Linked DNA regions of Homo sapiens: all the other regions are linked to region 2. The links come from fine-mapping of genetic effects on gene expression. A gene starts in region 2. Each other region holds a variant in brackets. All regions are shown on one strand. Distances are from middle to middle.

Region 1 (10,160 bases), 60 kb before region 2:
TGTTAAAATATCATCTTTCTTTTTCCCTGCAACTTGACTCTTGGTTTGGCATGCCCAAGGAAGGCAGCTGACATCCTGGAGAATGGGGTCTTGGGGGTAGATGCAAAGCGCATTTTATTAATGTCTGGGAAACAAAATTAGTTTTTTTACAGTGGCTCTGAAATGAGAGAAATTGCAGAAATTCTCCCTGCTCAGGAAAAGGTAGAGGCAAGGATTGACTTAAAGGTTAGTTTGTTTTCATTATTTTGGACAAGCAGCTTGACCCATGACTGCCCACCTTTCACACTGCTGGAGTTGTGTATGCTAATTGAGATGGAGTTTTTCAAGTCATTTTGAGAGACTGAACAGCTTAAGACTAGTTTCTAGTGAACCACCTCTCTGTATATTTGTATCTGACACAATTGGTTAAATACAGGTACTGTATAACATAGGAATGCGTTGATTTATACATTTCAGTTAACCAAAATTAAAATGTCTGTTACTCTAACTCCCAAAACCAAACCAGCCATTTGCCATACTCTTAGTGGATTATAATTGAATTATCCTCTTAATGAATTAGAATAAAATTCTTTTTTGAGTTTCACTGTGTACTTAAATCATATGTGGGCCCTGTTATTCAAGAATAAGTTAGAAAAAGACATGGACTTACATAAACAAAATTAGAGAAGATCTTAACACAAACGCTAAATTGTAAGGTAGTTTATAAGGGCTGAGGCTTTCTGAAAAGGGGACATCTTCATTTCCATTGTAAGCCCTATCTTGTGGATATGGTTTGATTGAGGAAGGAACCTCATCCTACAAATTCCAGTTGGAGTTTTTAGTTGGAAAAATATTACATAACACATTAATGCCTTTTGATGTTAGAATTCTAACCATTTATAAAGATTTGTTTCATAATTATTTCTGAAATAACAGATTTATAGAAATACTGAAAATGTAAGTATTTTAAAAGTACACATAAATACTGATTTATACATTGTTTCTGTTTTTCTTTTAAAATCAGATGGGTAAGAAGCGTGTTACTGATCATAAGCTAAATGTGGACAAAGTAATTAAAAATATTAACACAATTTCTTCGGAGTTGAAGAAGATAAAAGGTAAGTATTGAATCACTAAAATGTTTGCATGTCATTGTTATAAAATAAATGATAGAGCCAGTTTGTGTTTCTGCTGGGGTATAAGTAAATTTTGCCCACTAATTAGGATTTCTCTATTTCTTAACAAATGTTTTCAGTGTAAGTGAACTAGATCTCTAAAGATGAATTATGTTCGACTTTGGAGTTAGCAGACCTGAATTCCCATCCCTGACATTAATAAGCTTATCAGGTTGTCTAACCTCTGTAAATTTTACTTCCCTTCCTTCCCTTCAACACACCATTCAAGACTATGTCACATTCAGCAAAATTCATTGTCTTTATAAATTCTTACTAAGCCCCTAAGGTCCATTCCAAATTAAAAAGTATAAATTAGATTCTGTGACTTAAAGCTTCTTCATTTTAAACAGATTCATATAGTAGGATTAGACCTTATAGGTCATGATGTTTAGTCGCTCACCTCACAGACATATTCAGTTATTTTATCCCAAGAAAATTTCTGTGATTGAATATTTCTAGGGATAATCTATCCCTGACCAAACATTTCTTATGCTGGGGAACTTCCTGTCTCACTAGTCAATCCATTCTATTTTAAACAATTCCTTCTCACCAGCTAGCTGAAATCTGTTCCCCTATTGCTTTCACCTAAGAGTCCTATTTCTAACCATGAAAACTACACTGAATATGTAGTTATTCTTTTTAAAACAACTCTTGGGTATTTAAAGATAACCTGTGTCAGTTATGAGGCCTACATCTATAAGTAACAAAAAAACCAACTTAACTTATACAATAAGGAAAAACAAGAAGATCCAAGGTAGCAGAGCCCTAAAGTTAATTCAGAGGTTTAAAGATTTTGTCAGGGACCAGGCTCTTTCCATCTTTCTGCTCTGTCATGTTCACTCTCTTTATTACCCCTCATGATCATTACCTTCAGAGGTGCTCATATATAGACAGTCTCTTTTTATAAGTCTCCTCCCAGATCCCTCCAGCACAGTTCCCTTTCATTGGCCAGATTTGCATCACATGCTGATGCTTACAGCAGCCACAGCTAAGGGGACTGGGACTGCCAAGACCAGTTTGGACCACTCAGAACTTACTACAGGAGCTGGGGAAAGGAACACCTCAAACAAAATCAAGCTGTGACTCCAAGAAGAAGAGGGCATGGCCGTTCGTTAGGCACCAAATAATGAGTGCCTAATATGCTTTTTCCATGTGTTCTCCCTAGGACAGCATTTCCTGGACTTTGATCTGTGAACCCTGCTGTTTCAAGCAATGTTAATAGATGGTGTACAGTAGAACAGAGTCAATGTTCTTATGGCCAAATAAGTTTGGAAAGTGCTTTATGCTACATATTTCACAAATTTACAGTACATATTAAGAAATCTGACTACCTTTAATTCATCATTTCTCAAAACCAGCTTCAACACCACAGTGAAGATTCTCCTTCTAAAATGCGAATCTGCAGAAAACCCTCATTGGCTCACCATTGTCCTCAGGATAAAGTCTAAACATCTTAGAATGGACTATATGACCTGCTCAGATCATTCCCCTCCTTTCCCCTCTAGTCTCTTACTCTGTTCTTACTGCATGTTCTATGCTCCAGCTGTACTGAACTATTTGCATATCTCCACAAGTGCTTTTCTGTATCTGTTTCAACACATACTTGTCTGTCTGAAATCCCATTGCTATACCCTACCTCCAACACACCAGGTTAACTGCTAGTAGTCAAGGTCTCTTACAATGGAAAACTTTTTTTGAGCCAGCATGTTATCCTTTCTGCCTTTTGCTATCACCTGTTATACTATTTTATAATTGCATATTTCCTTACTTTTCTTATCCCTGCTCAACTGTAAGCTCCTTATGGGTATTTCTAGTACTTAACACGGTGCCTTGATTGATTCGATTCTTAAAAAATTTTTATTAAATGAATAAATGGTTCTGGATGCTTGAACTCATTTAAAACAGTTAAGAAGCTTTAGATTCCCCCCAAACTTGATTATCTAATTGTTCTAGTTTGGAGAATATTCTTTCATAAAATAAAATGTAATAACTATGTGATAGATGTTTTCTTGAGACATTGTATGGGTAGGTCAGGCAGTTAGACTCTGAGGGACCTGTAGAGCTACGCTAGGAAGGTAGACTTCTGGTAAATGTAGAGGATTAAATGAACACTCTGTGCACCCTCACTTCCTCCCCTAAATAGTAATGTCAGCAGCCAACCTTTACAGAATTTACCATAATCCAGGACTCTTCTAAGAGCTCTGCATAAATGAACTCTCTTCATCATAATCCTATGAGGTAGGAACTATTGCCATTGGCATTTACAGATGTGTAAATAGAGAGATTTAACTTTTTCAAGGTCAAGCAACTAGTCAGTGGTACACCTGAGATTTAAATTTAAGTGATTTTTAAAGAGACAAAAATCCACAAGTAAAGAGATTCCAAGAAGAGATAACAAAACAAAAGGCAAATGGAGAAGCAAATAGACAAGTCTGAACCCCAAAGCCCAAAAATCTGAACCCTAAGCTGGCTGGGTAAAGCCAAAAATAGCCCCTACGACTCAATTCATGGTGGCACCAGGATCTTCTGGAAGTAGGGGTGAAATTTGGATAATAGGAAGACTAGTTAAATATATAAGAATTGTAGATCCCTGAGGTCTCTTCTGCCCTCTGCATAGCTGGGCAGCTATCCCTTCACTGTGACAAAAGACTTGAGGTTAAAACAAGGATATTTGCCCTGGAACCACTAGTCATAGGTTGAGGGAAAGTAGTATACTGTAAAGAAGGACACTGAAACAAAGTTTACTTACAAAATTACAAGACCCCCAGTTTTTTTTCCTTCACTGGGCTACCAAAATACTGGCAGCCAGATTTATACCCACCAAGTAGATTTTTCTCTCAGGAATCTGACCAGCCTAAGATAAAAGATCTAAAGATACTAATAGCAGAGGTTCTCCCAACAAAATAACCCAGCCAGAACACCCCACATTATTGAGTACCACAGGTGCAGAACTTCCAATTGTCTTTTTAGTGTCACAGTCTTAAATATGGGCAACTAAGGCACAACAGATACTTGAGGGACAAATCTAATATTAAAAAGCAGAGAAAAAATCAACAGATTCAATGAGGAAGAAACAAATAATGAGGGGAGATGAAAATTTCAAGAAATTATTAATATTCAGAGAGAAGAGAAGATACTGTATCCATGAAAAAGGAACTACATACTATAAAAAATATTCAGAGAACAAGAAGGAGCTCTTGGAAATTAAAAATGTGACCATAGACATGAAAAACTCGATAGAAGGGTTGAAAGGTAAAATGAAGAAATTCCTCTAGAGTGTAAACAAAACAAAAGAGATGGAAAGTGTTGGTGATGGGGAGGAAAAGGATTAGGTAAGTGAAGGAAGTCCAACATCCAACAAATAAGAGTGTTAGAAAGAGAGAACATACACAAGGAATGAAGGGCAATTCATTAAAGAAATAAAGAAAACTTCCTAGAGTTGAAGGGCATTTGTTTCTACAATGAAAGAGTCCACCACAGTGCATGAAAATAGGCTCATACCAAGGCAGAATGTTGTGAAATTTCAGTCTACTGAGAGAACAAAAAGATCTGTAAAGCTTCTGAAAACAAAACAATCATATGAAAGTTCTCATATGACTCCAGCTTCACTGGAACCTAGAAGACAATGCAGCAGTGCCTTTGGAAATCTGAAAAAAATATGATTTCCAACCTAGATTTCTATAGCTAGTCAACCTAATTAAGGATTAGTGTAGATAAATTTTCAGACATATAATTTTATTCCCTCTGGAAGTTACTGAGCCTATATGTCACCAAACAAGGGAACAGATCAAAAAGAGAGACACAGGAATCTGGGGAAAAGGGCACTCCACAGAATGGAGGGATAAAAGGAGTCTCTAGGATATTAGTGAAGGGAGTTCCCAAGATACCAGCTGTACAGCAGTGCTAGTAAGCAATCAGTTCAGATTGGAGCAAATCAGAAGGCTCCAGGAGAGGAGAGACGTTTAACAATAGAATAGCTAAGGTGTTGAATAACCCAAGAGCAAATTTACTCAATTGGGGGACATTTAGGATATATTTCTGATAATGCAGCAATGCAAAAACCCAATTATTACCTCTGGTGGGTTGCGTGCAGGAAGGAAAATGTCATATGACAAGACTCAGCTATGAAGAATATTTGTATAATTAACATTTAAACATTAGATAATTGAGCTAAGCAAAAATTTTTCCTGAAGTATATTGGGAGAGAAGAGGGTGTGTGAAAGAGCTGTATCTTAATCTTCTGTGTCAGAGGCAGGTAACACTGAAAATTGAAAAAAAAAAAATCAAATCTCAAAAAATTTAAAGTTACAGAGGTAAACACCACCCCACCACTCCCCACAATAAAAATACTCAAAACAGACACACTGAAATGACCAAAGCAACAAAAACAAAGTGAGCTATAAAAAAAAAAAATTAAAATGGTTGCCTCTGGGAGATTGGAACTGCAGTTTTTTTGTAACATGCCTTAGACTTATCTGATTCTTGGTACTATATGCATGTATAACATAGATAAAAATAAGTTAAAACCATATAAATCAAATTTGTATAAATCAAGTTGCAGTTTAGTGATATAGCCGAGAAGTTGGGCTAAAGAGCACCCTTTTAGTAAGTTTTTATGTCATGCTTATTTTGTAATAACATAAATCTTATTTTTTTTTTAATTATACTTTAAGTTTTAGGGTACATGTGCACATTGTGCAGGTTAGTTACATATGTATACATGTGCCATGCTGGTGCGCTGCACCCACTAACTCGTCATCTAGCATTATGTGTATCTCCCAATGCTATCCCTCCCCCGTCCCCCCACCCCACCACAGTTCCCAGAGTGTGATATTCCCCTTCCTGTGTCCATGTGATCTCATTGTTCAATTCCCACCTATAAGTGAGAATATGCGGTGTTTGGTTTTTTGTTCTTGCGATAGTTTACTGAGAATGATGATTTCCAATTTCATCCATGTCCCTACAAAGGACATGAACTCATCATTTTTTATGGCTGCATAGTATTCCATGGTGTATATGTGCCACATTTTCTTAATCCAGTCTATCACTGTTGGACATTTGGGTTGGTTCCAAGTCTTTGCTATTGTGAATAATGCCGCAGTAAACATACGTGTGCATGTGTCTTTATAGCAGCATGATTTATAGTCCTTTGGGTATATACCCAGTAATGGGATGGCTGGGTCAAATGGTATTTCTAGTTCTAGATCCCTGAGGAATCGCCACACTGACTTCCACAATGGTTGAACTAGTTTACAGTCCCACCAACAGTGTAAAAGTGTTCCTATTTCTCCACATCCTCTCCAGCACCTGTTGTTTCCTGACTTTTTAATGATTGCCTTTCTAACTGGTGTGAGATGGTATCTCATTGTGGTTTTGATTTGCATTTCTCTGATGGCCAGTGATGATGAGCATTTTTTCATGTGTTTTTGGCTGCATAAATGTCTTCTTTTGAGAAGTGTCTGTTCATGTCCTTCGCCCACTTTTTGATGGGGTTGTTTGTTTTTTTCTTGTAAATTTGTTTGAGTTCACTGTAGATTCTGGATATTAGCCCTTTGTCAGATGAGTAGGTTGTGAAAATTTTCTCCCATTTTGTAGGTTGCCTGTTCACTCTGATGGTAGTTTCTTTTGCTGTGCAGAAGCTCTTTAGTTTAATTAGATCCCATTTGTCAATTTTGTCTTTTGTTGCCATTGCTTTTGGTGTTTTGGACGTGAAGTCCTTGCCCATGCCTATGTCCTGAATGGTAATGCCTAGGTTTTCTTCTAGGGTTTTTATGGTTTTAGGTCTAACGCTTAAGTCTTTAATCCATCTTGAATTGATTTTTGTATAAGGTGTAAGGAAGGGATCCAGTTTCAGCTTTCTACATATGGCTAGCCAGTTTTCCCAGCACCATTTATTAAATAGGGAATCCTTTCCCCATTGCTTGTTTTTCTCAGGTTTGTCAAAGATCAGATAGTTGTAGATATGCGGCGTTATTTCTGAGGGCTCTGTTCTGTTCCATTGATCTATATCTCTGTTTTGGTACCAGTACCATGCTGTTTTGGTTAGTGTAGCCTTGTAGTATAGTTTGAAGTCAGGTAGTGTGATGCCTCCAGCTTTGTTCTTTTGGCTTAGGATTGCCTTGGTGATGCGGGCTCTTTTTTTGGTTCCATATGAACTTTAAAGTAGTTTTTTCCAATTCTGTGAAGAAAGTCATTGGTAGCTTGATGGGGATGGCATTGAATCTATAAATTACCTTGGGCAGTATGGCCATTTTCACGATATTGATTCTTCCTACCCATGAGCATGAAATGTTCTTCCATTTCTTTGTATCCTCTTTTATTTCCTTGAGCAGTGGTTTGTAGTTCTCCTTGAAGAGGTCCTTCACATCCCTTGTAAGTTGGATCCCTAGGTATTTTATTCTCTTTGAAGCAATTGTGAATGGGAGTTCACTCATGATTTGGCTCTCTGTTTGTCTGTTATTGGTGTATAAGAATGCTTGTGATTTTCGTACATTGATTTTGTATCCTGAGACTTTGCTGAAGTTGCTTATCAGCTTAAGGAGATTTTGGGCT[G/C]AGACGATGGGGTTTTCTAGATATACAATCATGTCATCTGCAAACAGGGACAATTTGACTTCCTCTTTTCCTAATTGAATACCCTTTATTTCCTTCTCCTGCCTAATTGCCCTGGCCAGAACTTCCAACACTATGTTGAATAGGACTGGTGAGAGAGGGCATCCCTGTCTTGTGCCAGTTTTCAATGGGAATGCTTCCAGTTTTTGCCCATTCAGTATGATATTGGCTGTGGGTTTGTCATAGATAGCTCTTATTATTTTGAATTACATCCCATCAATACCTAATTTATTGAGAGTTTTTAGCATGAAGGGTTGTTGAATTTTGTCAAAGGCTTTTTCTGCATCTATTGAGATAATCATGTGGTTTTTGTCTTTGGCTCTGTTTATATGCTGGATTACATTTATTGATTTGCATATATTGAACCAGCCTTGCATCCCAGGGATGAAGCCCACTTGATCATGGTGGATAAGCTTTTTGATATGCTGCTGGATTCGTTTTGCCAGTATTTTATTGAGGATTTTTGCATCAATGTTCATCAAGGATATTGGTCTAAAATTCTCTTTTTTGGTTGTGTCTCTGCCAGGCTTTGGTATCAGAATGATGCTGGCCTCATAAAATGAGTTAGGGAGGATTCCCTCTTTTTCTATTGATTGGAATAGTTTCAGAAGGAATGGTACCAGTTCCTCCTTGTACCTCTGGTAGAATTCGGCTGTGAATCCATCTGGTCCTGGACTCTTTTTGGTTGGTAAACTATTGATTATTGCCCCAATTTCAGCTCCTGTTATTGGTCTATTCAGAGATTCAACTTCTTCCTGGTTTAGTCTTGGGAGAGTGTATGTGTCGAGGAATTTATCCATTTCTTCTAGATTTTCTAGTTTATTTGCGTAGAGGTGTTTGTAGTATTCTCTGATGGTAGTTTGTATTTCTGTGGGATCGGTGGTGATATCCCCTTTATCATTTTTTATTGTGTCTATTGGATTCTTCTCTCTTTTTTTCTTTATTAGTCTTGCTAGCGGTCTATCAATTTTGTTGATCCTTTCAAAAAACCAGCTCCTGGATTCATTAATTTTTGAAGGGTTTTTTGTGTCTCTATTTCCTTCAGTTCTGCTCTGATTTTAGTTATTTCTTGCCTTCTGCTAGCTTTTGAACATGTTTGCTCTTGCTTTTCTAGTTCTTTTAATTGTGATGTTAGGGTGTCAATTTTGGATCTTTCCTGCTTTCTCTTGTGGGCATTTAGTGCTATAAATTTCCCTCTACACACTGCTTTGAATGCGTCCCAGAGATTCTGGTATGTTGTGTCTTTGTTCTCGTTGGTTTCAAAGAACATCTTTATTTCTGCCTTCATTTCGTTATGTATCCAGTAGTCATTCAGGAGCAGGTTGTTCAGTTTCCATGTAGTTGAGTGGTTTTGAGTGAGATTCTTAATCCTGAGTTCTAGTTTGATTGCACTGTGGTCTGAGAGATAGTTTGTTATAATCTCTGTTCTTTTACATTTGCTGAGGAGAGCTTTACTTCCAAGTATATGGTCAATTTTGGAATAGGTGTGGTGTGGTGCTGAAAAAAATGTATATTCTGTTGATTTGGGGTGGAGAGTTCTGTAGATGTCTATTAGGTCCGCTTGGTGCAGAGCTGAGTTCAATTCCTGGGTATCCTTGTTGACTTTCTGTCTCATTGATCTGTCTAATATTGACAGTGGGGTGTTAAAGTCTCCCATTATTAATGTGTGGGAGTCTAAGTCTCTTTGTAGGTCACTCAGGACTTGCTTTATGAATCTGGGTGCTCCTGTATTGGGTGCATATATATTTAGGATAGTTAGCTCTTCTTGTTGAATACATCCCTTTACCATTATGTAATGGCCTTCTTTGTCTCTTTTGATCTTTGTTGGTTTAAAGTCTGTTTTATCAGAGACTAGGATCGCAACCCCTGCCTTTTTTTGTTTTCCATTTGCTTGGTAGATCTTCCTCCATCCTTTTATTTTGAGCCTATGTGTGTCTCTGCACGTGAGATGGGTTTCCTGAATACAGCACACTGATGGGTCTTGACTCTTTATCCAATTTGCCAGACTGTGTCTTTTAATTGGAGCATTTAGTCCATTTACATTTAAAGTTAATATTGTTATGTGTGAATTTGATCCTGTCATTATGATGTTAGCTGGTGATTTTGCTCATTAGTTGATGCAGTTTCTTCCTAGTCTCGATGGTCTTTACATTTTGGCATGATTTTGCAGCGGCTGGTACCAGTTGTTCCTTTCCATGTTTAGCACTTCCTTCAGGAGCTCTTTTAGGGCAGGCCTGGTGGTGACAAAATCTCTCAGCATTTGCTTGTCTGTAAAGTATTTTATTTCTCCTTCACTTATGAAGCTTAGTTTGGCTGGATATGAAATTCTGGGTTGAAGATCCTTTTCTTTAAGAATGTTGAATATTGGCCCCCACTCTCTTCTGGCTTGTAGGGTTT
Region 2 (10,160 bases):
CGGTGTTTCTTTCCATGCTTTCTTCCTAGCATGTTTCTAAACATAATTGAGGTTATGATTTATATTCAATCTCATTATTCTGACTTTTTTCTCTTAAATTACCTAAAGGGATAATATAAACACTGCCTAGTGTTATGCAAACTCAATTTAAAATAATTTTAATGACCACAACATTATTTAATCATGCCCTTATTGCTGAACATTTAGATTATTTACCAAGCTGCTGTTTCAATAATGATAATAAAAACGGCGAACAATTATCGAAAGCTTTCTGTGTGGCAGGCAGTGTACCAAGTAGTTAAACTAGTCTTCAATCATTTAACCCTCACATTTTGCAGATGGGGAATGAGAGGCACAGACAGCAAGTAACTTGCATGAGGTTCCATGGGTTTTAGGTGACAAGTTTCAGAACAGGCTTTAATGTCTCTTTCAGAAATATTCCCCTTTTAATTACAGCATAACTTATATACAGTAAGTAAAATGAGCAAATGAAAATGCAGCTTCATTTGTTTGCAGTACCTCATCCCAATCAAAATAGAGACAATCATGGATACTATTTTGCGAACTTTTTTCTCCCTCTTTGAGATAAATTGTTTAAGTCAGAACCTCAGAACCGAGTTATATAGGATCCATAGGAACGAGCATTTTTAAGATCTTGGTTATTTTCCTAGACCAATCAGCAATCATATGAGGTGCTAGTTTCAACTTGTCCTCAACAGCATAAATGTTCACATTTGAAGTATCTCTCAACTTGCTGCTTTGGGGTGGAGCATTTGAGGTTAAATGTTTCTCCTTGAGGATCCTAGGTTCTTCTCACAAGGGTGGGCCTCATGGTTTGTGGCAGCCTTCTTTTGGAGCACATTTTAAGCCATATTTTTATCTTATAGCTAGCAAATCCAAAGAATAAATACAATTGTTATGAAATCTTAGCTTGGAAGGGTGGGATGATTATCACACTCAGAAAGCTGACTTAGAAGTTGATATTGAAAGCACATCCCATCTATGGAGCCCTGGTATCCCCTTTATCTACAGGCAGTGGGGGGTAAGTGGTTCTTGGAAGAGTCAACTGCCTTTAATTCATCATTCTCACTGTTATCATTATGAGATAAACCAGATGATTTTGAAGAGTGCTAACTTTGTGTCTAGATCAGCAGAGAGTCCTGCAGACTGGGACCCAGGCATTTGATTCTGCTCCAGCAAGATCTAGGCTTGTGGACCTCAAATCTGTATTTTTAAGGAGCACCCTAGACGATTCCTATGGCATCCAGCATTGGTAGGCACTGGTCCAGAAAAGTTACCTGGATTTGTAGTAAGGAAGACTGAGGCCTCTAGAGGGAAAGAGGCTGGTCTAAGGTCACACAGTGAGCTGGGATACCAGCTGGGACCCCACCTGGGATTAGGACACACAGCTCTGAGCCAGTGCCTCTCCACTGCACGACCCAAGGATGTTCTCCTGCAAGTCAAAAGGAATTGGAGAGATTGAACAAATATGTAACATGGTCTCTGTCCTCAGGAGCTTATATTCCAGACACAGGACGAGGTACCCATGTCAGAGACAAGAAGACGCAAAGTCCCACCAGTCTGCATGGGTGTCCCCAGCTAGGAGCCAGTTAATAGAGAAGGTAAAAGGGCAGAAGGAACACGCATTAGGATCCATTTGTCTGCTGAGTGCCTTGCACACATCATTTGCTTTAATCCTCACAACCAACCCATTGGGTTAGTTACTGTTCATATCTCTATTTCACTGATGAGGAAGTTGAGGCACAGAGAGGCAAAGCAACTACAGGAAAGTCGCCAAGCTAGCAGGTGGCAGAGCCAGGGTAAAGTGTGTCCGACCTCAGAGCTGAGTCGAGAGCTGTCTCCAAGGGAGGCCTGACCCCACTACTTGGGTAGAGTTTGCATCTGCAGATCAATTCTTTACATGTCATGTTTGACAGCTAAGATCCATTCCCAAATGACTCTGCGGTCCATTCGTTTGGTAGTTTCTTTCAGGGGGCTGAGGTACTCAGAATCTGAAGGGTTTCTATCCAAGTCTGTGGAGGGACTAGAACTTCCAGGATCACAGATTTGCCTCAGTCTCCTAGTTTCTTCCCTCAGTCCATTTATGGCAGAAGAAGGAACCTGCCTGGGTGCTGTAGATTTGTCCTGGGGTCTGAGATCTCCAGGAAGAAAACTCTCCCTTCCCCCAGCTCAGGCAGTGAGGTCTTCCTGTACCATCCCTGACCCGTGGTCCATCTCCCTGTACTGATGGGAGTTTTAGGGATCAATTCTCTGTTGCTCAATTGGATTGTATAATTCTCCTGGTCACACCTGAATGTTAGGCCTATCTGTGCCTCTCAGCCCGTCCCAAGTCTTTCTCTTCATAATTCTCAATTCCTTTCTTTTTCCCTTATCAAGGTAACATGCCACTTTATTCCCTCTTGGCAAATTTTACCTTGTTGCCCTATCTTATTTGGTCTATATTTGAGCAAGATATTTAGAAACATCCTTCAAAAAACCAGTTGCGCAACAATATTTGCTGAAATCTAAGTTTATTATGACCTTGCAGAAGGAAAATAACAGAAATGAAAGCACAAAATATGGCAAAAAACAGGATCTGTGAACTGTACCCCTACCATACCACACCTAGTTCAACATGTTCTCATTTTCTTCTTCAGGTTGGGGGAGAACAGCTGTGACTATAAATGCCTCGGAAATGCATAGACCCCAGGTTTGGCTATACGTCCTAGGGAACCTCGTCTACCCTCTTGAATCTCAATTTCCCCAGGAAAAACACGAAGCTGAATTAGATGACTTCTACCATCTTAGCTTTACAATCTCATCTTTATGACAGTCTGGAATATCAACAGAATCCGATGCCAGCCTGCAGGGATGAGGGTGTTAGAAGCTTAACCGTCTCGCACAAGTCATCTTACCACATGGTCAGGGTAGAGGGACTATAACTAAGTCATGTGGCTTGAGATCTGCCCAAGCAGATGCGTTGTCCCCTTCTGCCAATGACCAAGCACAGGGATCCTTCAACCTTTCCTCTAAGTCCAGAAGATAAGACAGCAACGCTCTGGTCCCAGCACCGCCACAAGCCTCTTTTCCTCTAGGGGCCTCAGTTTTCATAGCTATAAATTGGGGCTCACATCAGTTTTCTGTCCTGCTTCACAAGACTCTCATAAGGCTCCAAGGAGACTGCCCCAGGCGGGAGCTTGAGGACCCCCCTTAGGGTCGTGAGCAGTGAAAGCCCAAATGCTGTGTCTGGCACTGCTCATCATAGTCCTCTATCCAGCCCTCCCACCCTGCCTATTCTTTCTCCTGCCTCCAGGACACCACGTCTCCCCTTTCTAGTAAGTAGCGTTGATCTCATTAGCAGTTACAACAGTTCTCTGCATCTCAGAGCATGGACTTTAAAACCAGATAGGTGTGGCTTGAGTCTTGCCTCTATCACATGTAGTCCCTAGGGCTTCGGACCATTTCACTTCCCTGAGCTGATTTTGCAGCTGAGTCAAGGGGATAACAATGCTGACCTCACAACATAGTAGGGAGCGCTAAATGGGACAGTGCCTGTGAGACACCGAATTCAAACCCTAGCACATAATAGGCACATACTCATTTGAGGGCTTCTGCTCCCATCCTTCTCTCCGGAACTCATGGTCAGGAAAACTCAGCGGTCTATATGGCGCTCACTCAACCAGTAAAGTTGCCATAGGGTTCCATTGCTATCTTATACACCTCCCACATTCTGCCCCAATTCCATCGTCAAGCCTCAGCTCAGCCCACCAAGGGCACTAGCATCATGACCATTCACACAAGAGCAAGGCTTACCTTCTTGAAATAGTCAGCAAGGCTGTCGGGGTCCCAGCCCAGGACCTCTGAGCGAAAGGGCACATTCCTCAGTGCCATGGCTGCTCTCCCGGGAAGAAGCTCACAAGCTGAGCATGGGCGCTTCACCCATGGGCAGAGAAGCTCAAATCCAGAGCTCGGAGGCGTTCTTGGCTCTTCCAACTCCCAGCTACCCTGTGGAACACCCCTGTTGGAGCCGATGTCTTTTCTGGCGTAGCCAGATCCCAGAAAGCAACGGCTTCCTCTGCGAACAAATATGGTCTCTTCTCAGAAAACGACTCAGCTAGTTTCCTTTACCACTTCCTCTGCTGGGCTCTAAATAAGTAAACAAGGAAGCCCAGCTCTGGAGGCTTGAGATGCAGAGAGAGCCACAGGGTTGGTAATTCCCCACTGGCTCCAGTCACCCCAACCCAGTAGGAGAGGCAATGAAGGGGTCTTAAACTCCAATGTGAGTCTGAGTAATTTTCCTTTAAACTCTGGGCACCCATATGTCTACACTGCATTCTTGCTCAGCTGGGGCTTTGCAGACCAAAATCTATCCTGACGGTTGACCTGAAATACAGACAATTTCCCACATCAGTGAACTGCTGGAGCATGTTTTTTTAATGCTTTCCAACCACTTTCCCCTCCCACCATCAAAGACTGGGATTCTTTCAGCTGCCTCTTTACAGTTGTCATGAGAGGGTCCTCAAGGAGTGAGTGAGTCAGGCACCCAGGGCTGAACAAGGTGCTACACTGTGCAGACAGGGCTCAGTTTCTGATATGACTATTTCTGTGCTATGCAACCTTAGGCAAGGAGTTAAAAGCTGGGAATCTCAGTTTCCAAATCTGTATAATAGGAAAACAGTGATTCTTCATATGCACATAAAACTTAGATGCATTCAACTAGACAAACCTAAAAAGAAAAATTAAAAAGAAAAAAAACTTAACAATTGCTATTGGTAGTGTCATATATTCCATTCACTATTGTTTCCACAATATATTTTATTCACTATTGATTCTGCCATATATTCTAGCCAAAGAGCACATTCCCTGGAGATAGGAGGTGAGAATTTGCTGTTTTCTTAGTTTCAGACATTGTTCATTTCTCATAACTGAACAACTTATTGGCAGAGGGTGAGTCCAGTGTATAAAAGCAACTATATTTGTGCAATAAGGCAACCTCTAAACACAAGTTACTACTTCATCTAATGCCACACACACACACACACACACACACACACACACACGAGTCATCTGTTCCAAGGCTGTTGCCTTTACTAAGTGATGCTATGTTGGTCCTTGAGGTGGTGCCTTCCTGAGGGTTTTCAAGCATAGCTTTGGCCATGCACAGTTTTCTTCTTATACACACTCTGAGGAGCCCCGCCGTCACGGTAATGCACCTGCCTCACAAGCTGGTGGGCAGCTTAAATGAAATACACATTTTGCTCCAGGCCCAGCACTAGCTCATCAATGTGAGCTGGTGTTAGCCTCACCTTAGAAGGTGCTGAGGGCATCAGTGAAGGTAGCCCAGGCCATTTGCTCCTTGCAGGGCCTCACACCTAAGAACTCTTTTCTTTTCTCTCTTTCTTTCTTTCTTTCTTTTTTTTTTTTTTTTTTTATTGAGACGGAGTTTCGCTCTTGTTGCCCGGGCTGGAGTGCAATGGTGCCATCTCGGCTCACTGCAACCTCCGCTGCCTCCCAGGTTCAAGCGATTCTCTTTCCTCAGCCTCCCGAGTAGCTGGGATTACAGGCATGCACCACCACGCCCAGCTAATTTTGTATTTTTAGTAAAGACGGGGTTTATCCCTGTTGGCCAGGCTGGCCTGGAACTCCCAACCTCAGGTGATCTGCCCGCCTAGGCCTTCCAAAGTGTTGGGATTACAGGCGTGAGCCATTGTGCCTGGGCCGCACCTAAGAGCTCTTTGTAGCTGATCATTCTGTATAAAGCACAGCTCTGCTGTACAAAAGCTCCATCACGGGTGAGAGGTCACCTGGTCTTTCAAATCACTAGCATAGCAGTGAACAATAAAAAGCCATTTGAAGAGAAAGAGAGAGAGAAATCACTTTGAAGTAGAGTAAGCACAGAAGATGTCATGGAATTAACTGGGATTTAAGCAGGGCCGTGGAGGATGGAGTAAAAGGGAGGGCATTCCTGACGTGGATCAATCAATCTCTCTCTCGCTATCTCTCAAAACACATGCCACCTATGAAAAGGAACATTCCAGATCATCCTTAAAAGTAGAAGCAATTTTACTTTATTTTATTTTAATTTCTCCTTTTTATTTGCTTTTGTTTTATGTTTAGAGATGGGGCCTCCCTCTATTGCCCAGCCTGGAACGCAGTGGCACAATTATAGCTTACTATAGCCTCGAACTCCTGGGATCAAGTGATCCTCTCACCTCAGCCTCCCAAGTGGCTGGGAGTACAGGCATGCACCACCATGCTCGGCTAATTTTTTTATTTTTACTCTTTTGTGGAGATGGAGTCTTGCTTTGTTTTCCAGGCTGTTCTTGAACTCTTGGTCTCAAGCGACCCTCCCATCTTGGCATTACAAAGCGCTGGGATTATAGGTGTAAGCCACCAAGACTGGCCTAATTTTCTTAATGATGTTCACCCCACTCAGGATAAGAAAAATCTACAAAAAAGCAGTTGTAATGAAGGTATCACTAAATATTAGGCTCCTTTAGAAAGAATTATCCAATTAATGTGGCCAAGATGGAGGATCCATGGAGCTCATTTAGAAGACAGACAAAGCAGCTAAGAAACCTGGATGACAATAATGGTGACTTTGAGAAACATAAAGAGACACGATGCCTTGAGCTCTTCCTATGGTCCAGAGAGCACAAGCTAAGAACTTCTTACTGACTGTCTTAATTGTTGGCACTATTGTTGCTCCTACTCTACAGAAGAGAAAATTGAGGCTCCAAGAGGTGAACTACTTGCCCCCTGAACCCAGCAAGTAGGGAGTGAATCCAGGACTCTTCCAAAGTTGATCTGAGTCCAGAGCCCCTGTCCTTGGCCATTTGCCACCTTGAGGCTCTGAGATGTTACAGAAACTGCCTAAGGTAGACTTGGGATTCAAACCCAGTCTGTCTCCAGAGCCTGCGCAGTTTCTTCTCTGTGGCCTCTGGTGAGGAGAAAGAGAGGTTGTCAATCTGAACAAGCTCAGTAAAGGATGCAGCACTCTGCATGAGGCGGGCACTTGGTGCCCCCTCCCCACAGAACCACAGGCCCATTCCTCAGAAAGGGCAGCTGGTGCAAGGGGAAGCATGTTGCTTCAGGCCTGGAGGCTTTCCTCTTCCCCAGGCCTTGCTGATTTCCCAACACTCACGAGTTTCACATCTCCTGTCTCTGGCTGGCGGGTTCCTGAAGCTCCAGAGACCGGGCTAGTTAGCCCCCAAGAGAGACTCAGGAGACCAGAAGGACCACTGTGACCCTGTGCAGGCTCAGCCGCAGGCCCCTCACCTCCAAAATGGGGCGGCCATGAAAGCAGCCTCTGGGTACAGCCCCCGACAGCGTGGCTGCCATGACCATGGAGGCCAGGGGCAGCAGCTGGGTGTACAGCATCTGTCTGTTGGCTTCAAGCATGAAGCAGAGCAGAGGGTGGGGATCCAGTAGGGCATAGTGATTTGAAGCAGTGGTGGGGATACCCTCGCCCATGTCTGTCTCCCTCCCCCAACCAGGTGGAGAACTCCGCAGGTACGAACGAGGAACGAGGTTACAGAGGCCTTCTTAGGCTTTGTGATGCATAGCTCAAGATTTGGGAAAAGGTAAACAACCTCTGAGCAGAATAAAAACAACATTCTAGGGGCTGGGCACAGTGGGTCATGCCTGTGAGTCACGTTGTGGGTCAATCCCAACACTTTGGGAGGCCAAGGTGAGTGGATAATCTGAGGTCAGGAGTTCGAGACTGGTCTGACCCATATGGTGAAACCTTGCCTTTACGAGAAATACAAAAATTAGCCAGGCGTGGTGGCATGAGTGCCTATAGTCCCAGCTACTGGGAAGGCTGAGACAGAATTGCTTGAACCTGGGAGGCGGAGGTTGCAGCGAGCCGAGATGGCACCACTGCACTCCAGCCTGGGTGACACAGCAAGACTCCCTCTCAAAAAAAAGAAAAAAAAAGACAACATTCTGCTCCTACACAGAAACAGGGCTCATGGAATAGGAATGATTTTTCTTTGTTTTTGTTTTTGGAGATGGAGTCTCACTCTGTCACCCAGGCTGGAGTGCAGTGGTGCCCTCTCTACTCAGTGCAACCTCCCCCTCCCAGGTCCAAGCAATTCTCCTGCCTCAGCCTCCCGAGTAGCTGGGACTACAGGCACATGCCGCCACGCCCAGCTAATTTTTTGTATTTTTAGTAGAGATGGAGTTTCACCTTGTTGCCCAGGCTGGTCTCAAACTCCTGAGCTCAGGCAATCCGCCTGCCTCGACCTCCCAAAGTGCTAGGATTACAGGTGTGAGCAACCACGTCCGGCCAAGGGATAGGAACCTTTACTGCACAACCAGTGGAGCCTGTGGACAAGAAAGCAGTACCTGCAGGGAGGCTGTGTCAGATTGTGAGAGTGGATGTGGGAGCAGCAAACTGCAGCCCAGGGCATCGCCTGAATCTCCTCCCCACCCCACCCATCACGTCCAGACTCCCAGCTCCCTCCCTTTCCATCTGACCCACAGCAGAATCATGTGGGCAGATAACTGCCTTCCTTCACCGCTAATTCTAGAGGCGAGAGAAATGCACAATTCCTTAGAAGAGACTTGGGAGTTGCAACTTCTGTGTGTGGGGCTGGGGGAAGGGTCTGGGGAGTTGATGCTTAGGGACGGGGAGAATGGAAAGCAGGGACTTTACAGACGAGAATGTGTTGACCTTCTTAGGAGAGGAACACAAGAAGTTAGAAGGTGGGTGGGAGGAAGTGCTTATTTGAATTTGACTTGGACAGAGGGTCCTGACCATGGGAGAGAGAATAAGGTGGTGGCACGTGGCCCAGAGAGGATGCTGACGTGACACAGACACCACAGGCAATCTGAGGATGCCCTTGCCCGTGTCCACCCAGCCTCACTCCCACCAACTTTTTAACATCTCAGATTTATCACCAGAGGCTGAAGTCCCTTGCTGTTGGAACTTCCTAGAGGGCCTGCATGGGAGCAAAGGCTGCAGCTGTCATCCTCACAGAGAGAGGGGGCAATTTTCCCCTCCATCCTTAAGGCAGGCAGTGGGAGCACCCTCCATGCCTGGGATCCTTGTGGATGGCAAAGGGCTCCACCACATGAGAGAGTCCAGTGGAGCGAGCGGAACCAGGAAGGGGTCCTGACTGCTCTGCTGGACAGAGGGGCCCACCCACTCCAGCAGCCACACTAGAAGGCACAGAACTCGGCAAGCCGGCCTCAGAAAGAGTGTGCAGGCAGGGGGAGACCTGCCTCCCGTGCAACGCATCCTCCATGCAGAGCGCCAGTGCTCACAGCACTCCTGCCGGCCGTGGGTGGGAGGCGGTGGGGAGGGGGCTGGAGCAGCAACCCCATAGGAGCCCTCCTGCAGGCCACACTCCGCTCTACCTCGACAGTCACTGAACTCCCTGCCCCCAGGCCTGGACACAGCTCTGACCTCCCCCGTCCTGGGAGCCGGCCAGCCTGTGCAAGGCAACGAGAAGCAATATTTTCCACTTCCTCCCAGTTGACAATTTCATTCTTTTAAAAAAAACTCTTTCATCCCCTTTCTCTGTGTGCCTTGCTCTGCTGTTTTAGCTAAGTTGCCTCAGAAGTTCAAAGGTGGGTAGGAGGAAGTACTTATTTGGACTTCCTGTCAAACCTTCCCTCCCTGGCTGCCCTATTTTTGACTTTGGCAGCCTGAACCCAGATAGCTCTGCTGTGAAGGGAAACTCCCCAAATGCCAGCAAGCGGGGTGGAGTGGGGGCTGGGGGCCAGAGAGGGGGTAACCGTCTTCTCAACTTAATAGAAAAATCCTTGTCTTCTTCCTTGGCAAGCTGGAGAAGGCAAGATTTCTGGGTGGTGGGAAGGGGTGCCAGAAAATAAAGCAAATGAAATTTATCTCCAGTCAGCAAAGGCACCTGCGACCAACTTCAGCTGCTTCTCCACAAGGAAGAGCTGTGGACCCAGAAAGTGCAAGCACATCCCTAAGATGAAGTGGCTTGCAGTAAACGAGAACAGCATAGATGAGAGGTTCGAGGTACGTTTGAGAAGTGGGCGCATCCTGATTGCATGTAATTTGTCTACCAACCCTTCCACGAGTCTTCAAGAGCTTGGCGAAAAGAAAGGCTAGGTCCTCTTGTGTATGATGTCACATAGCCCTCGTAACTGCTCTTTGTGAAAGGGGGATAGAGTCATACATACTC
Region 3 (10,160 bases), 49 kb before region 2:
GTCTTTTTGTTTGTCTGTGCCCTGCCCCCAGAGGTGGAGCCTACAGAGGCAGGCAGGCCTCTTTGAGCTGTGGTGGGCTCCACCCAGTTCGAGCTTCCCAGCTGCTTTGTTTACCTAATCAAGCCTGGGCAATGGTGGGCGCCCCTCCCCCAGCCTCGCTGCTGCCTTGCAGTTTGATCTCAGACTGCTGTGCTAGCAATCAGCGAGACTCCGTGGGCGTAGGACCTTCCAAGCCAGGTGCGGGATATAATCTCGTGGTGCGCCGTTTTTTAAGCCGGTCTGAAAAGCGCAATATTCAGGTGGGAGTGACCCGATTTTCCAGGTGCGTCCGTCACCCCTTTCTTTGACTCGGAAAGGGAACTCCCTGACCCCTTGCACTTCCCAAGTGAGGCAATGCCTCGCCCTGCTTCGGCTCGCACACCGTGCGCGCACCCACTGACCTGCGCCCACTGTCTGGCACTCCCTAGTGAGATGAACCCGGTACCTCAGATGGAAATGCAGAAATCACCTGTCTTCTGCGTCGCTCACGCTGGGAGCTGTAGACCGGAGCTGTTCCTATTCAGCCATCTTGGCTCCTCGAGAGCATAAATCTTATTTTAAGTCAGAATGGGACACACTTAAGTTGTGGTTTGATCACTAATCACTTGGAAATTAGGAATTAGGAAGAAATAGCTACTTAAAGCAATAATAGTTTTTTATGACATATGTGCTACAATATAATATCTCCTGTTTTGTTTTGCACAGAGCTCTCCCAGTTATTGCTTTGTGACCTTATCCTACATTTTAATCATCCCATCAAGACTGAGAACTTAGCAGAAGCAGAAAGAAACAACCCCCTCTTTGAAGAGTCTAAAATATCAGATGTATCCCTTGTTTCTAACAGTTTTTCTATCTGATTTCTTATTTGTTATGAGTTTCTGTTTTATTGTTGAACTAACAAATATTTGGGAGAGTTGAGTTTACTAATTTGTATATATATAATTTAAAACAAAATAAAAATAATGTAAACAAGCAGTTCATGTTCTTGAAGGCTGTTTAATGTTTTGAAGAATGGCTTAACTTACGTCACTAATGGCAAGTGTATGACATAGGAAATTGGCCATGGGTCACTGCTTATCCTTTAGCTTATGCTTGAATTTGGCTCAGGTTGAAAGAGAGCTACTAAATTATTAATTGATGGAATGAGTTTTTATTAATCAGAACTCTCCTGGTAGTGAACGCCAAGCACAACTCAACCAGCTGAAGCATTTATTGAGTCATGTGACTTGGAAGCACATAGTTGGAATAGATTTCAGGGATCCCACTAATTTGTCCATACTTTTACTGTGTTTTTGTGTGTTGGCCTCGTTGTCTTCTATTGTAGACTGGTTCTTCCAGATAATTGGTAAATGGGAGTAGTTGCAGGGCAGCAGGCAGCTCCAAGTGTACAGCATTGCCTTTGGGGACCCCAGATAAAAGAGAGATCTTGTCTCAGGCTTCATGTTTAACATTCCAGAGAGTGACCCTGATTGACCCAGCTTTAGTAAGATGTTTATCACTGAGCAGGGTTCTGAGCAACTGTGACTGATGCACCTGGGGTCATATAGAAGGTCTGTGGCCAAAAGAGGCAAGGCCCAGCCAAAAGGAGTTGTCGGTGCTTGAACAGAGAGAGAATGCTAGTCATGAAAACATTAGCTTCCCAACATTGATTTCAGTCATAGCCATGGAACAGAACATCTTAATCCTGATGGCACTTTCCACTAATAGACTTAAAATGAGCTTTGGTTTGTTTTATAAACATGATTCGCTACCAAATAGTTGCTTTGAAATCTATCAGGTCCTTCATTTTAGATATTTTTGAATTGTAAAGATAGAATACGGCAAAGCAAGACAAGTGGAGCTTACTCGATACTAGAACCTATGGTGTATGCTATCCTTACTACCTTGTACCTAGCTCACTTGTTTAACACAGAAGAGCCACTAAGTAAATACTTGCTGAATAGCCCGTTGTGTAGACGTGTAAATGAATGCAGGGTTTTCAGCCTTAAACTCCCAAGTTTTGGACCCTAAACTGAGAACTTCTGGTTGTTAAGGATGAGATTTTGTGAAACACCATTTTTATCATCAGTTAAAAGTCTCTACCTTCTGCATACTCCTTATTTTAACATATCATCAGTTTTAAAATGGTGACTTCTTAGATTCCTTCCAATACCCCTTTTATTAGCTCATGAAAATGAAGCTGCAAGATACTCTTTTCCATTTCGAAAACTTGTAGATTAAGCAGAGACGCCAAAAATTGTTGCTAATAAAAGTTGTGCAATAACAACCAAGGTCCCAAAGGGAAAAACTTGAAGAACAACTGATTGTCACTATTTGGCTGAATACCAGTTTTTTAATCTGGCTGAATGCCTATATTTTTTGTTAAGTGATATTTGTAAACTGGAGGAAAGAGTTTAATTACCTCAAAGCACTTATACAGCCTGTTTGGGAAGGATGAGGAGAAGGGACTTTATGGCAGAGCTGTCAGGGGGATAACAAGAGACAGAAGAGCCATATCTAATAGGAAAGTCTGATCACATTTAATCTAAAGTGTTGCTCCCTCGTCTTCCCAGGAAGCCTTTGGTAAAATCTATATCCCTGGACAATGCTTTTGGGGTTGGGAGAAGGTTGGTGGGGGGCTGTGATGGTTGGTGTGGGTGTGGAGATGTGAAGAAATGCCAACTTAACCCCAGATGTGTTCATTAAACCTAGACCCACGATACACCAAAGTCTCATCCCTAAATTTAAAATGTTTTCTTTTGGTATTTGTAGTTTAAATTTTCTTTAAGACAAAAATATAACAGTATGGACTAAAAGTCAATAAAGTTGTTTTAGGAAACCAAAAAAGTAAAGCAAAAGACTATTTTAATCCCAGAAGTTATCTCAACATGCATTTGTCTTTTCATAAAAAAATTACGTAAAAAT[G/C]CCCCCAGGAAAAAATACTAAATAAGAGTGAAATTATATTTTTGAAGCCTCTTAAATTATTGCTGCTGAGAAAACGAGGTTTAGTGATTTTCAAATTACATGTATAAAACTAATGAATGCCTCTGACTGACAGAGGTTTGGCTGTAAAAAACAAATCAGTTTTATGTGACACCAATAACTATTACTGTTTCAGTGTTTTAAAACTTGCCCCAAATTGTTTCTGTAGCTGTGTAAACTACTGTATTTTGAAATGGGCATTAAATAATCTTTTAAAAAATGAATTATTACAGTGCACTACTAGACTTCAAGTGTGAACATGACTCATGCACTTTACAAACATTGAAGAAGAATAAATAAATTATGGGATAGTTGACAGTCTTCATTTCAAACACTGTTTTTAAAGGAAAGGATAAAACCCTTGTGTTCATGGGGAGGGGTTCAGTTCAGTCCTAAGTGTTTGTCCATTGACCAAGGCTGATTGATCTCGTGTTGGCAACAGAGGCAGGAGGACGGTTCATTTGCTCGGCTATAACTTGCTATGGGTACCCTGCAGCATGCGTTAATGTGCACTGGTATCTGGAACCTCGGTTTTTCCCATCAATGAGCAGAAGTGGCATTTTCCTGAAGTAGTCAATAATATCTGACACAGACAGAAAGTCCTGAAAGAGTCAAGATAGGGAGATGAGTCAACATTGGAATGAAAAGCAGGAACTTCACTTTCAGTTTTTTTATCTGCATAATATATGCTGCCTCTTCAAGTGATGAGGATTGTGGGGGGAAAAAATGTAAATGTGGCAATTAGTTTAATGATTTCTGCTATAGAACTTTGAAAAAATTCCTCATAAACATCCAACAAACCATAGATAAAGATAAAATATGGGCCGGGTGCAGTAATTCACCCCTGTAATCCCAGCACTTTGGGAGGCTAAGGCCGGTGGATCACCTGAGGTCAGGAGTTTGAGACCAGCTTGACCAACATGGTGAAACCCTGTCTCTACTAGAAAATAGAAAAATATTAGCTGGGCGTGCTGGTGTGCGCCTGTAATCCCAGCTGCTTGGGAGGCTGAGGCAGGAGAATTGCTTGAACCTGGGAGGCAGAGGTTGCAGTGAGCCGAGATTGCGCCATTGCCGCACTCCAGCCTGGGTAACAAGAAGGAAACTCCATCTCAAAAAAAAATAGATAAAATATGTGCATGCGTGTGTATATATATATATATATATCTACATATCTATATATATATATATGTAATTTGAAATGCATATATTTTTAACTTCATATGAAGGGGTCATTTAAATAGTCACTATTACAATATTCTTGCCTCGGGTTGCTCTGTTTTTGGTTTTGGTTTTGGTTTCTGCATCTCTATTTCACCCCCAGTCATTAATAGTGTTAGGAAACATAAGGACTCAGGAGGTCAGACACGGTTCATGGTGTCTAGAGGTGGGATCTGCAGCATGGCACAGGAGTTCCTTCATGATCTCTCTGCTGTGTCCTCACTGCCACCTTCACACTCATAAAGGCTCAGCAACCAATATTTGCAGCCATAGCCTGGATCGCCCCAGCCTTGATTGCTTGCTAGAGAGGGAAAAGCCTAACTCATTTTTCTAGATGTGGGTCACAACTCACCTAGGAACCCTAACAGGATAATGCACTTCCTTTAAGACTAATCTGCTAGGTGCCTCCCTCCATGGGAGCTGCAATGAGTGGTTGGTCTGCACTTGTGTGTTTCCACACTGGACCAAGATAAATCTTGAAGGGCAAATACCTCTGCTCCTATAGGGTCTGTGCAGCTCTATCCACTGCCAACCAGCGATTCAAACATTTGATCACAAGCATGCATTTTTTTTCTATTCATTAACATTATCATAACAGAAGTATGTGAAGCAGAAGTTATGGGTAAGCTGTTTCTCATTCTGGACATGTTTGATTCAGCTGGTCCTCCTCTTGGAACTTTGAACTTAGAGTATGTTTGGGGCGTTACCTTCAGTTGTTAGTTTCCTTTGCGAAAAACTAGCCCTGAGGGTTTCTTTCCATCCGTTCTGATTAGCACTCAAAAAGTGACTGGCATGAGAATCTAAACCTTGGCCTAACAGAGAATTTCTTTGGCGATCTGGCCATCCTCACAGAGCCAAACCTCCATTTTGTTAAGAAATGAGCCAAGTATTTGAATAATCACCCCAGCAAATATTCTAATTTTTCCCCTTTTCCAGGTGGTGTCAACTTAAAATGCAGCCTACGTTAAAATTATGCCACAGAGGTGAATAATAGTGGGAACTTTCCTTTGACACCATCTAAATAGATTTTTTTAAGTTAACATAGTTTTTCTTGATTTTGAAAATTATACATGTGATTATTTGAAAGAAAAGATATACAAGAAAGAATCCTATGGCAGAAGTAACCATTGTAAAGATTTTGCTTTATTTCTCTTCCAATAAATGAAGGGCTTCACTCATGTGATTTAATCCTAAATTTGCCATACAGCACGGACTCTCAAAGATCGCTCCATGAAGGCATGCAGAGTGGCATAAATAAAGACTTTGGGAAAATGTCGAAATTTGAAATCCTTACCTCTTTCCCTCGGAGTCCAGTTCCCAACAAGTAAACTTGACTTTCCTTCTGATAACGGATCTGGATGTTGTAAACTTTATCTTTGTACAACACCATGAGGACATATGGATTGGTTGTTGTTTTTTTAGAGCTGTCTCTGACCAGAAATGTGCCATCCTAAAAAGACAAATTCCTGTTATTATGGGAGCAGTAAAAGTCAATATTTTTGTTGCTTGTAAGAGTAGTAGACAAGCCTCTAGGGATCTGACAAACATGTCAGTTGCACTTTGCAGCTTCTTGAGTGCAAAACCTGTCATTCAACGAACATTCAGTTCTCCAAACAGCTACATATCCCATGTGTCATGAGTTATTTTGTTATTAAGAAAGGCAACAGAGATTGTATCAAAGAAATTTCCAAGTCAATCTCGTTAAAGCCTCCTGATAAAAACGGAATCTTTTGTTCAGTAATAAATAATGGGTGGTTGAGTGGATAAAAGGCCAGGAGAAATAAAATACTTTATTGGTTAACTCAAGATATATCTTCCTAGTATTCCTGTGAGTTAATTCCCTAAACTTTCTTTTCCACATCCAAAGTCAGAAAACATCCACATGCCATGAAATTCACCCTTCTTAAAACCCTGTGATCTCTAGATAGTCTTTCCTTCATCAGACCCTTGAGCAAAATTGAATGCAGATGTTCTCTTTTCTTTTCTTTTTTCTGATATTTGCTAAACTACTGTTTTGATTGTCCTGTACTTTAAATTTCCATTCAATAAATTATTGCTACATAATATTAATACTGTAAAGATCTAATATTAAAATAGAATTAATTGGTAAGGACTCCTTTAAACTACTCCCTTCTCCTCATACCAAATCAGGATAGCTTTAAATAGCCATGAGTTGGCAATAATGACTTTCCTTTGTTCCTTTTATTGCAAGTTAATTGAGCCTGTCAGAACATCTCTGCTAAACAAACATACTTCTGGACCAGTGATTCACAGTCTTGGCTTCAAATTAGAATTACCTGGGAAGTTTGAAGACTCCCAGAGCTGACACAGCACCCCCAGAATAATTAGAATCTCAAGGTGAGACCCAGGAATCGGGATTTTTCAAAAGTTCTCCGGGTGATCTAAATGTGCAACTACTACTGAGAACTACTGGTGTGGAGTTTAAGTGTGAAAGATGAAAGATTTTTGCTTTCCCATTTCTGATAAATAAATCTAAGGTAAAGTTTCGGCACTGGCTACGGGAAATATGTTTAAGACTTTATGATATTAAAGGACTAGCTAGAAACGTCTAGGGCAAAAAGCAAAAAGTTGCTGCCATCTCTTTAATATTGGTCCTTTCACATCAACATGGATGGCACGTCTGTGTTAAGAGGAAGATAGAACTGGTACGATGTTGGAACTTTGAAAGAGAGTCTCCTTCTGACACCATGTGATTCCTATGACAAGACAGACTCTTTCATTAATAAAATCTCCTAAGATGCTGCCAACCAAATGACTGCCTTGAGATTCTTCTGCCAGCCTAATGATTCCCGAGCCTAGGAATCCCTGCTATGGGTGCTGGTAGTTGTGAAGCTGGCACTAATGGGTCTCCTAGGTATTACAGAAAGCAACAGCACCTAGCAGAATTCCTAGCCTGTAATTGGTACTCAGGACAGGTCAGTTCCCTTCTCTGCCATTAATATTTACAACTATGTTAAAATAAACTATAGCACAATACCTGGTTTATCTTTCTAAGAGCAGCTTCTGCCTCTGGTCGGGTAATATAAGAAACGTACCACTCTTCATTTAATGAATTCTGAAAATGTAAATTTTTAGAAACTGAATAAATTTTACAGTTACAGATGTAAGTGAAAAGAAAAGCCTCTGAGTAATCATTTCCATAAATCAACACCTCAATTCCAGGAGGTCTGAAACATTTGTTTTCTTAATTTGCATTCAGAGTCATTTAGCTGGGGCTAAATAGAAGATATTTTGTGCGAACTGCTTTTTATCATGACACTGGTTGCAAAAATGCCTGTGAATAAGAGTTCCTTACAGTATGGAACCTCTTCAGGAAAGATACAGATACAATAATTTCTTCAGTTTAGCATAATAACCTGCTTGATTAAAAAAATGGGTTATTGAGCAGTTAAGTGACGAATCAAGGTCATAAACATAAAAAACAGGATTATTTTTCTTGCTGTTTAATGCAAAACACATGTTTGCCATTGAAAGCGTCTGAAAGAACGCCAAGGGAAAAGAACATATTGTTCATCTGGATCTTCTCCTTTAACTTTTTTTTCAAATAAATAAAATAAAACAAAGGGAAGATAAAAGTACAGAAGAACATTCAATGGGAGTTTCTGGTGATTCTTTTACCAGGGAAAAGGCAAACAAACAAAAATAAAAACATGCTCTCTTACCTCTTCCTCCGCGGGGGATGGGGGCCGAGGTTTGTTTGGAAGTGGCAAGGGGAAGTTTCTGCCTTCGGCTCTGATAGGTGGTCTGTTGCTAGGGCCTTCAAAAGTATAGAATTCTGACAGTTAATTTACTGTAAGCTATTGTTTGCTGCTATCAAAACACAAAACACATTCCCCCCACTCCCCCAAAAAAATACCCTTGCGATTGGTCCTATAGTTCGCATTTTAAGAAACAAGGGCTTCAAAAATAATTTTCATCTGTTTGAAACCATGGGGGCTGCTCAGGCATTATTCTGTAATCATGCCAGTAAAACTTTGAGAAGAGAACCTCAACTTTGAGTGATTTTTCTAAATGTGCATGTTACATAATATAAAGTGACTAGATCCCTTTATAAAAAAATTCGCAATTGTTTTAATGAATGTGAACGTCAAAATGAATGCTCAAGAGACAAATTTTTCATAGATTCTTATAATATCATCATAGGCAGAATGGATTCCCAACAGCTGATGTAGGGACAATGCAATGATGAAGATAATTATGTTCTTAATGTTTCCACAAAAAGAAATGTAAGTGACCCAAGAGAAGACAAAATTACCTTGAGAATATTGCTAGCTTTTAGAATCAAAGTTGGCTACCCGCTGTTCTAACTAAACAGGTAGACTGTTCAACTCACATAGAAGGCACTACAGATCAGGAAGTTTTTACTGGGCAACTATTAATTACCCAGTGCTTGTGCCTCATCTTCTCTAAAACTCTTTTTTCTCATTTACAGTTCCTTGAAACTTTAGGAGAATGTTTCCTAATCTCAGGAAAGGTTTAGTTGTGTTTATTGCAGTTGCCCAGGGTATTTTCTATGTGCCAGGCTGTGGTTAAAAACAGAAAAATTCTGTGAGTCAAATGTTCTCTTAATTATTTAACCATCATTCATTCATACCTTCAACAAATATTTATTCAGCACAACTCTGTCCAGATCTTGAGTAAGGTATCGTGTGTACATTTTTTTTAATCCTCACAGCAACATTACAAGGTAGGTATTGTCTTCATTTTGCATATGGGGAAATACAGGCTCAGAGGCTAAGCAAATCATGCGCTATCAGTGGCAAAGCCAAAACTTAAACCTGTGGTTACCAAATGCTACTGTGCATGAGTCAGAATCCCTGGGCGACTTGCGAGCACCTGGGGCTCAGAAATCTGCATGTTAGCAAGTACTTCCGGTGGTTCTACACCACGGATTGTCACTACGTCTACCTTGTTACACCACTGAGGAGAGGAGAGTCACCTGTAAGGGCTAAAGCCTCCTGAGCCGCATCATCAAGATTATTTATGATGGTCCTTCCCTGTTTTTAAACAAGTCTCCTGAGCCACATCAACAGGATTGTTTAAGATGCTCCTTCCCTGTTTCTAAACAAGCTGGCCCTGAGCTGCCAGTGCCTTCCTTCTCCAAGTTCCCAGTGCCTAGACAGATCTTCCCCATCCCCATTTTTTTTGCAGTCCAACACTTGCACTTTTATAATGCTTGTTGAATGAATGAAACCTAACAATACAGGAGAGTAACAGAACCAAGGCCCGCATTGCATGGCCATTCTACAGTTAAGAAATGATTCTCTTTCTGCCTCTGCACCTGCAGGCCAGCATCATAGAGTTCTAAGTTACAACAGAGAAGCACATACACTTTTTTATTGCAGTCACCTACCACCCTTAATATCTAGACTCTCAAGGGAGTCATGACAGGTTTTTGGGCAATGCACAGCACAAACTTTATCCTTCTGATGTTGGAACAACCAGTAGAACCAGTAGAGAAGACCGAGGACCAGGTGTCCTGGCAGTCTTAGGGGAAAAGAGATCAATTTGGATCAAGCTAATGTTCCAAAAATAATTAACTATTTGCATTAATAAGCCCCATCACAGACTCATAAAACTGGAGATCTGTGGAACTTGCTTTGGAAAATAATGCTGTGATGTGTCTGGGACTCAGATGGCTACAGAGGCAAGGAGGTAACACAAATGTGTGTTTGCAAAACACAGAGAATTTTGGGGATTGTGGAAAATTAGGGGTTGGGCGAGAAACTGTGAAAACCATGTGGTGAACGTGGACACCACCATAACCTCAAATGCTTAGAAAACATTGAAAACTTAGTGGGTGCCACTGGCGTCAGCAGTGGGATCTCGCCCCTCTATGGAATGATGCATCCAACTGAATACCCTAGATGTGTTCTTGGAAAAAATGTTGATTCTCAGGCTATCAACTCACATTTACTAAC

What was found. PIP is the estimated chance that this variant, and not a neighbour inherited with it, causes the effect. A credible set is the group of variants that fine-mapping cannot tell apart.
Region 1: its variant is the best candidate, but not a certain one, in a credible set for the expression of LCP2 in tibial artery (GTEx, PIP 0.76).
Region 3: its variant is the best candidate, but not a certain one, in a credible set for the expression of LCP2 in whole blood (TOPMed, PIP 0.76).

Annotation. Positions count from the first base shown.
Region 1 is chr5:170,233,974-170,244,133 of GRCh38, forward strand. It overlaps C5orf58 (chromosome 5 open reading frame 58), which reads left to right. Exons shown (of 4, transcript NM_001102609.3): 2 at 142-225; 3 at 1,004-1,097. The coding sequence starts at 1,004. Among named protein-coding and RNA genes, the nearest start is that of C5orf58, 6.1 kb to the left of the region's middle. The variant G/C (reference allele first, on the strand shown) is at 7,707.
Region 2 is chr5:170,293,721-170,303,880 of GRCh38, forward strand. LCP2 (lymphocyte cytosolic protein 2) reads right to left here and starts at 4,057. Exons shown (of 21, transcript NM_005565.5): 1 at 3,814-4,057. The coding sequence starts at 3,891. RefSeq lists enhancers at 3,160-3,239, 9,326-10,160.
Region 3 is chr5:170,245,218-170,255,377 of GRCh38, forward strand. C5orf58 (chromosome 5 open reading frame 58) reads left to right here. Exons shown (of 4, transcript NM_001102609.3): 4 at 745-1,014. The coding sequence ends at 896. LCP2 (lymphocyte cytosolic protein 2) reads right to left here. Exons shown (of 21, transcript NM_005565.5): 18 at 7,902-7,996; 19 at 7,217-7,294; 20 at 5,513-5,668; 21 at 1,016-3,602. The coding sequence ends at 3,480. Among named protein-coding and RNA genes, the nearest start is that of C5orf58, 17 kb to the left of the region's middle. The variant G/C (reference allele first, on the strand shown) is at 2,944.